Homo sapiens: one gene and its partner. Changing the gene in region 2 together with the main gene of any one other region gives a genetic interaction. Each region holds a gene or a part of one and is shown on either strand. Other genes may lie near its edges.

Region 1 (4,064 bases), on a different chromosome or scaffold from region 2:
ATAAAAACCTTTCTCTCCTTTGTTCAGTGTGCTCTTGTGATTGTGACTGGTGCAGGCAGCAGCACCCTTCTGCGGACGTAAATTTGCCTTGCTGAGAAGTCTTTTGTTTGAGTGCTCATTTTCTTTGTGACTCTGAGCTCTTATTTCCAACACTGGGATTACAGACATGTGCCACCATGCCCAGCTAATTTTTGTATTTTTAGTAGAGATGGGTTTTCTCCATATTGGCCAGGCTGGTTTCGAACTCCTGACCTCAGGTGATCCGCCTGCCTTGGCCTCCCAAAGTGCTAGGATTACAGGTGTGAGCCACTGTGCCTGGCCATAATTCATTTTAAAAAGTTTATTCATTACTTATAGAGATGGGAGCTTGCTATGTTGCACAGGCTGGCCCTGAACTCCTGGCCTCAAGCAATCCTCCCACCTCAACCTCCACAGTATCCAGAGTACAGGCGTGCACCATAGCACCAGGCAACTGAGTGCAATTCAGCCCCTCCATATATACTGCCAAATGTTGGTCTCAAATATATACTGCCTCCATATATACTGCCCAGCTGGTCTCAAACTCCTGTCCTCAAGTGATTCACTTGCCTTGGTTTCCCAAAGTGTTGGGATTACAAGCATGAGCTACCATGCCTGGACTCAAATAGATAATCTTGTTCTTACCAAAGCAGTAACTGAGGAGTGTGCAGGACTCCTCCACCCACAGGTGATGCTTCTGACAGATCACAAAGGAATTTAGAATTCTAGTTTAACAATATCACTCTTTACTCAAGTGGAAGGGAGTATATATTTTTTCCACCTCTGTAAGTAAAGTTCATTTTAGCAGTTGGTAGAACTGGTGTCCTACCAACTAGGCTAGGTTTTCTACCTAGCCATGCCTATTTATGTCTTTGCAATCAAGAAAGATTCTCCATCCCTGGTAACAAAGCATCGTCTTCCTAAAGTTCACTTCACTGTATGAAGAACTGTGAGGATCTAAATTCTACAGTATTTCCCTTTGTGAGTTTATTAAACTCTAATGCTAGGCACATACACGTCTTTGAAAACTGCCTCAAACTTTCTCCTTCCTGGGACTTCCTGTAAATGAATTTCATTCTCACTGTCCCAACAGCTCCAATCCTAGGAATTAATTGAAAAATAAACTACAAACGTGAGCAGAAAAGCCTTCACAATGAATCCTAGAGAAAACAGTTCAATTATCTGAAAGGAGTGTTCCTTCCTACACCCATGCCAGACTCTGATTTTCCCATGCTAGCAACTGTGACATTACAGAAACATCTGTTCCTGACACTGTTCAACTGTTTAAATAACCAAGGAGGAGAAAAAAAAGATTTATAATTAAATAGTATTTAGGGTCCCAATAGTCAGAGTCCAATAATCCAAAGGTCATCTATGCAAAATTAGGAATATGCATTTTTCTCCAAAGAGTATCTTTGGCTTTAATCTGATTCTCAAAAGGATCCTATGATCCAAGAAAGTTTAAGAACCATTGAAACAGTAATTTATTCCTGAGCTATTTGACTGCCATCAATCCATTTGTTATAAAACTGAAGGGAAAACACACATTTGAATCACTTCTTCTAAAGCTTTAGTAAGTGATCTGTTCAAATAAGCAATTACATGAAAGAATAAAACCAAATTTCCAACCTAAAATTCTGACAGGAGAGTCAACATGATGGTTAAGGCCTATTTCATATTCAAACTTCAGTCTATGAAAGAGTAGAGAGAGAAGGGTCTCCTCTTTCAAATTAAATATTATAAAAACAATTAAAAAAAGGTATCAATAGTCCTAAAATGCAGCAACTCCATCTCAAACAAGCATGACACACTTCTGATCAGATGAAGTATTTACAAAGGTAGCTTGTGTTTTAAGCATGTAACACTTTGGGTGACGACAGAAGTTTCTCCTCTTTGGGTGAAACCTGCCTAAGGCTGTAGAGATGACCAACACTCTGCAGGTGTTAGTTCTGAATAACTACTGTGGGCTTTTCATGATCTTCCCTCCAGTAGGAGACCACAATTGAGTCTAAAGTCAGATCCACCGTTGTCTATGGGTAGGCAGGGTTGATTCAAACTTAATCCTTGTTTGTATTCTTTTGGATTACTGCAAAAACATCTAGGGACCAGAGTGAATGTCTGGTGAGGCATAACTGCAGAGGTGAAAGATGTCAAACATTTTCAATTTGGCAGTTTCTTCAAGGTGTGTGAAAATTCACATACAGAAGGTCTGGCAGTGTCTTCTGTAAGTTTTCGTGTTGCCGTATTTCTGAAGGAGCTCTTGGGCCTGCTGCTGCATTTCCTGGGCCAGACAGCCAGGAAAGTGGGACCTGATGAGAAGCAGGACGAGGCAGCACTCCAGCACATCTGGGAAGGGCCAGGCCTGAAAGACGATGACATGAGGATGAATAAGGAAGCATTTGCAGAAGAGCCACAAACACCTGCACAGAAGGCACCAGTCACTCAGGTTCATCTATAGACACTTCTTGGACACAGCTGAGCCAGCTGTCTCCTAAGGCAATGTCCTGTCTTTCTCTTCAACAGTTACTCCAAGGAGAAATGACACTCAAAACTAGGATGGCTACTGCGATGTCCTTCTCAATGGCACAATCTCTTTCTACAGCCCTATGCAAATCCACCCTTAAAAATGGTGCTTCTATTAATATTTGGGCCCACAGCCAAAAAGACCTGTCCATCTGTAAGCTATCTAATACATGGCACCAATTTAAATTTTACTTCTTACCTATTAAATCTATTTGGTTTCTCTGAAGATTGAGGTATAAAATTACTTGTGTGATCGATAATTCTAGTCTCACAAAACATTCTAGCTAACCAAAGTAATTGGATTCTAAATTCTTTTTTTTTGTTTTGTTTTTTTTTTGAGACAGAGTCTCGCTCTGTTGCCCAGGCTGGAGTGCAGTGGCGTGATCTTGGCTCACTGCAAGCTCCGCCTCCTGAGTTCACGCCATTCTCCTGCCTCCATGCTATTCTCCTGCCTCAGCCTCCCGAGTAACTGGGACTACAGGCACCTGCCCCCACGCCCGGCTAATATTTTGTATTTTTAGTAGAGACGGGGTTTCACCATGTTAGCCAGGATGGTCTTGATCTCCTGACCTCATGATCCGCCAGCCTCAGCCTCCCAAAGCGCTGGGATTACAGGCGTGAGCCACCACGCCCAGCCTGGATTCTAAATTCTTAAGCACATATGAATGGGTAGAGATTTTAGAAACTGAACAGAGAGGTAGCTGACCTTTATAAGAATGTGGTATAGTCAAGTGATAACACAAAAAGTGATGCTTTACCAAATGAACTGCTTTAACTCTTACCTTAATGCTCTCAGGAAATTTCGCCATTCTCTGATTTGCCTCGGTAAGCCTTTTGGTTAACTCAGGCAGAGAAAGTGGCTCATTTTTTTCTTCTTTACTAGTGAAAAAAATAAAAGGTGTAAATTGTATGTCTTGCCCTGGGTAACATTTTTCTCCCATTGTTATTTTACTGTGGTAAAATGTATATAACATAAAGCTTACCATCTTAGCCATTTAAAAATACATAGTTCAGTGATTTTAAATAAATTCATAATGTGGTGAAAAACATCCCCACCACCCATTTCCAAAAACTCTTGTCATTTTGTAAAACTGAAATCTTATACCCATTAAACATTAACTTCTCATTCTGCTTCCCTTAGCCCCTGTCAACATTATTCTACTTTCTGTCTCTATAAATTTAACTATTTTGAGTAGTTCATATAAGTGGAGTCATATAGTATATGTCTTTTTGTGACTGGCTTATTTCACTCAGCATGATGTCCTCCCTTCGTAAGGCTGAATGACATTCCATTGTATGGATATGGCACATTTTGCTTATCCATTCATCTGTCAGTGGATACTTAGGTTGCTCCCGTGTTTTGGGTATTATGAATAATGCTGCCATGAACACAGGTGTGCACATATTTCAGACCCTGCTTTCAATTCTTTTGGGTGTATACCCAGATGTGGAAGTGCTGGATCCTATGGTCATTCTATTTTACATTTCTGGAGGAAGTGCTGCTGTACTGTTTTCCACAGTGG
Region 2 (5,327 bases):
TAAAGTTAAAAGATTATAACTGTCATTCTGTTACCGAAGTACTATATAAATTACCTTCTCAAACCGAGTTTTTCTATTCTTTTAAAAGTTATTATAATATACCCACTGATCTTTTTAAAACAAACATGAGCTCATCAGTCCACTGCTAGATTTTATCCTGTGAAGAAGGAGGTATTTTCCCCTAGAGATTCAGCATAGCTCCACTGACACCTTGAGGCTTCTAGCCTCAAGAACTATAAGACAACAAATTTCTGTTGTTTGAAGCCACTAACATGTACTTTGTTACGGCAGCTCTAGGAAACTAATCCATCTTTCTAGCCATATTGCTTTCCCCACTTACGTAAAGACTAGAAGCCAACTACTTTGAATTACTGGAACATACCTGTCTTCTCTTAGTATTTTTGTAAATGGTTTTATTCCCTCCATCTAGATATCCTTTCATAAATTAGCAATGAGTTGAACTATTCATTCAAACTATAGCTTCTTCAGGAGGCTATCCTCTGATACTCCTAGAGAGTTAAGTAGTGGCTTCTTGGTGTTCCCAACAGCACCTCGTTCATGACATACTGAATTGTTGAGCATGTTACAGTCATCATTTTCTGCATGTCTAACCATCCTAGTAGACTGAGCCCTTGGTGTGCAGGGACTAGTGCCTAGCAGACTATACATATTTAAATATTAATAAATGAGATTCAAATAATTTAAGAGAAACTAATAGATGTCAACTAGGAAAACGATTAAAGGATATTAACTTTAGTGATACTATACCAGGCACACACAAAATATCATGTATCTATTGAAAAATGGACGCTTATCTACAAAATTACACCATCAGTGAGGAAATATATGACTGAAGAATACCATTAAAGAACAAACAGAACTTACTGGAGGAGTTTTCTGAGACAGCTCTCTATTCAACCTGTCAGTAAAACTCTGTATTAGTGTGTTTCCTCCTGCCACTATTACACTGCCATAGAGACCCTAGGATAAAAATACAAGAAAAATCAATTAGTTCCATATGTTTCCAAAAGTTTTAAATACAACTACAAATATAACCATGTGCTCTACTACAATTTCCCTTTCGTTTTTTGGAAATGTTTTACTATTATATAGAACTAATAGCTTAATCCATCAATTCTCCATCCTGGCTGTACATTCAACTCATCTAAGGAGCTTTTAAAACACAAATTCCTAGGGGCAATTAAATAAAAATGTCTGGGGATGGGATCCAGGCAAGGTTACTTTTAGAGACGGGGTCTCGTTATATTGCCTACATTGGAATGCAGTGGCTATTCACGGGCACAGGCATAGCGTACCACAGCCTCAAACTCCTGGGTTCAAACAATCCTGCCTCAGGCTCCCAAGTAGCTGGGACTACATGCCACTGTACCTGGCAGGCATGGTTTTTAACTCCCAAGATTATTTTAATGTGTACAAAGTTTTAAGAACCACTAACTTAAAGGAATCATTCTAAAAATCATAATTTTTTTTTGGCAGATAGCTGCCAATATTTAATTAGAAGTACATTTTATAATGACTTTATCTTAGAATGCTCATCTGGAAATATTAATAGCAACCACCAGCCAAAAATTAAAATTACAAATATTTTGAAAAAGAATGCTTATCTGTAAGTTAGGATATTCAAAGAATGCTCATCTGGAAATATTAATTGCAACCACCAGCCAAAAATTAAAATTACAAATATTTTGAAAAAGAATGCTTATCTGTAAGTTAGGATATTCAAAATTAGACAATTATTTTATGATTATGACAGACAATGATAAACTCTGAACATATTCCTCGCCAAAATTATTGCTACTTTTCTCTTTTGCAGAGGTAAGCATCAGAAGCACATGGGAGCTTTTCCAAAACACATATGCTAAGCCCTTCCCAAATAAAAATAAATTACTACTTATAAGCAGTGTATTTACTTTGAATTTGCATGTATGCATCAGAAAGTTAAATGTCAAACTGTTTTAGTGGGTAAGTTCCTATTTTTAAAACATACTTCAAATGTCTAAATCATCTAAATTTTGAAGTAGAAAATGGAATGCAAAAGTATCTCATTAGTTAAAAGGAGAAACTTCACTAAAAACAGTTATCACTGTTGCAATAAATATACTTCAATTCAATTACCTTCCCCGAAAGGTGGAATTGTATTTGCGCTAAAAAAATCCCAAACTTATACTACTATTGTCCTAGAAACATCACATGCCTACTAGGTTACCAGGTGAAATAAAGGTAAAATAAAGTATGATTTTCATAGCCACTCAAAGCCTTTTTTGAATAACATAGTAGTTATTAGCACTATGCTTTAAGCAAATTAATTTACTCAAAATCTAGGCAGTATGTGGGTGATAAGCTGAATTGGGTTTAAATAAGATAAAGTAAGTCCTCATTTAATGTCATCAATATGACCTTGGAAACTGACTTTCAGCAAAATGTCATGTAACAAAACCAATTTTTTTCCTGAAACAATGTCCTTCAAGGACCTACTGTACATCGTTTCAGTTAAAGTTGCAGTCTCCAAGAACCTATCACTGATAATGAGTGAAGTATATAATATGGAGTTAGTATTTAAAACCTGACAAAGCACAAAAAATATGAAGAGCATTTAAAATAAACTTCATGTAAAAGTTACTCATATAATTTAAACCACGCCTTCCTGAAAAATAAAAGTAGAAGTTGTGCTATCTGTAAGAAAATCACCAACAATACATATTTTGGTTTGCCACATTTCAGGAAATCTCTAGCGCAGTCTACAATAACTTTCTGTGATGATGCAAATGTTCTATATCTGCGCTGTCTGATGCAGCCACTAGCCACATTTATAATGAGGCTACTACAACTGAAGAATTGAGTTTTATGTTTTTATCTATTTTAAATTTAAATTGCCACATGTGGCGGGTAGCTACAAAACTGGACACCATAGCTCTAGAGTTTCACATTTTTCCTTTTCTAGTACTTCATCTTTTTACATATACTGTTATAAAATGAACCTCAAAGTCAATGACACTGACAACCATTAGATCACTGTCAACCTAACAATGATTTGGGGACATTTCAGTCCCCTAAAAGATACCTTTAAACCGTAACAGGAGACTGGCACTTACTGGTCTGATGTCAATATCACACATCCCAACACTTGTGGTGACAACATGACTGACTCCTAACATTGTGTTTCCTGATAACCCCTACAACAAAAGAAAACAAGTAGTCACATGGAAGCTCTTCATACAGTAAAGCATATCCAAAACATTTTAGCCACAAAAGCTCTTTACCTATATAGGAAAAGCCAGGCTAATTATGAAATAAGCTTTTATACCTTTACATTGGAAGGGTCAAATAATCCTTCTGGAATCTTTAGCCGCTCTGCACCAAAATCACAATTGTAGCCATTGGGGAATTCATAATGAACAGTTGGCATCTGTGCAGCCACTCTGAAAACATATTAAACCGTATTACACAAAAGACAAAAAATAATTCTCTTCAAAATTATAAACTACTAGGGAATTATAAACTTGTAAAAAAAAAAAAGGGAGTGAGAATATTTTAAACATTATTCAATTAAGTATTTTTTAAACAAATCCTTTCCTCATTTATAAAGTATACATTTTAATAAGAAAACATACTGTTCATCATAAGTTGAATCTGACACTTGAAGTACCGAAGCTTGAAAATCCTGGATAACACACTGTGAGTAAAAGAAAAAAGTAACAAACAAGGTTGAGATTTATCTTTGTAATCTATACTTTTATAACATATTTTAAATACTTTTCTGAATGAAATTGGACCATGTTTCTAGATGGGTAAATCATTTCAAGAGTATAAATGTACCTAACAAGGATTCTGAGTATCAAGAAACCTAATTCTAATCATTTGCATTAGAAGTTAATTACACACATTTAAGTTACAACAGTTATGAAATGAGAGATAAATAACTGCAGGTGCAGGAACCCCTGCACCACAGTTCTGCATAACAAAACCAATTTCAGAACACCACTTTCTCCTTAAAAATAAGCTAGATTAGAAGCAAGATTTCATTACCTACATATACACATGTGCATGTACATCACATTTTATGCAACTTTTAATGACTGTACATAGTATAAAACAGTTTAATAAAATGTTGTGAACTAACACGACCTCTAGAAAAATCTTGTCTAATATCTAGGAAAAATGACTAATCATCCTAATTTTTCCTCGTATATTACATGTGCACACAGACAAAATCTTTATCTTTAGGTGCAAAAACTGTCAGAGCTGGATGCAGTGGCTCATACCTGTAATCTCAGCACTTTAAGAGGCCGAGACAGGAGGATCGCTTGAGGCCAGGAGTTCAAGACCAGCCTGGGCAACATAGCGAGACACTGTCTCTATAAAAATAAAAAATTAGCCAGGCATGGTGGCATGCACCTGTAGTCCTCCCTACTGAGGAGGCTGAGGCAGGGGGAGCCCAGGTGTTTGAGACTGCAGTGAACTACAACTGCACCACTGCACTCCAGCCTGGGTGACAGAGAGAGACCCTGTCTTTATTTATTTTTTGAGACAGAGTCTTGCTCTTGTCGTCCAGGCTGGAATGCAGTGGCACAATCTTGGCTCAATGCAACCTCCATCTCCCATGTTCAAGCAATTCTCCTGCCTCAGCCTCCCAAGTAGCTGGGATTACAGGTGCTCAGCACCAAACCCAGCTAATTTTTGTATTTTTAGTAGAGATGGGGTCTCACCATGTTGGCCAGGATAGTCTTGAACTCCTTGCCTCAAGTGATCCACTGCCTTGGCCTCCCAAAGTGCTGGCATTACAGGCATGAGCCACCGTGCCCAGCCAACCCTGTCTTTAAAATGTGTGTGTGTGTGTGTGTGTGTGTGTGTGTGTGTATATGATATAAATAAAATAATTTTTAAAAAACCTGTTAGATATGATCCCTCTCATAGTAAATTATGACTCATATAATTTTACTCTTAGTTTCTTTTGCTGGATACACATTAATTTCTATCAACAGAGTAAGCAAACAACCTACAGAATAGGAGAAAATATTTGCAAACTATGTATCTAACAAAGGTCTAATACCTAGCTTCTATAAGGAACAACAACAACAAAAAGCCTCATTAAAAAGTGGGCAAAGGACACTAATAGACACTTCAAAAGAAAACATACATGCGGCCAACAGCATATGAAAAAAAGCTCAATATCACTGACCATCAGATAAATGAAAATCAAAACCCCAATGATACACCATCTCACACCAGTCAGAATGGCTATTATTTATTATTAAAAAGTGAAAAAATAGGGCCGGGCACAGTGGCTCACGCCTGTAATCCCAGCA

Evidence for each region. Genes that interact genetically often act in the same process or in processes that back each other up.
Region 1: changes in ACTL6A (region 2) and GEMIN5 together harm fitness less than expected from each alone (positive genetic interaction), as found in Homo sapiens cells (one large-scale study listed by BioGRID).

What each region holds. Positions count from the first base shown.
Region 1 is NC_000005.10:154,885,998-154,890,061, forward strand, and holds the end of GEMIN5 (gem-associated protein 5), read right to left. Parts: intron 3,421-4,064; coding exon 3,324-3,420; intron 2,381-3,323; coding exon 2,213-2,380; 3' UTR 1,414-2,212; downstream 1-1,413. UniProt on the Homo sapiens protein: The SMN complex catalyzes the assembly of small nuclear ribonucleoproteins (snRNPs), the building blocks of the spliceosome, and thereby plays an important role in the splicing of cellular pre-mRNAs.
Region 2 is NC_000003.12:179,579,007-179,584,333, reverse strand, and holds part of ACTL6A (actin-like protein 6A), read right to left. Parts: intron 3,695-5,327; coding exon 3,633-3,694; intron 3,441-3,632; coding exon 3,326-3,440; intron 3,195-3,325; coding exon 3,114-3,194; intron 982-3,113; coding exon 886-981; intron 1-885.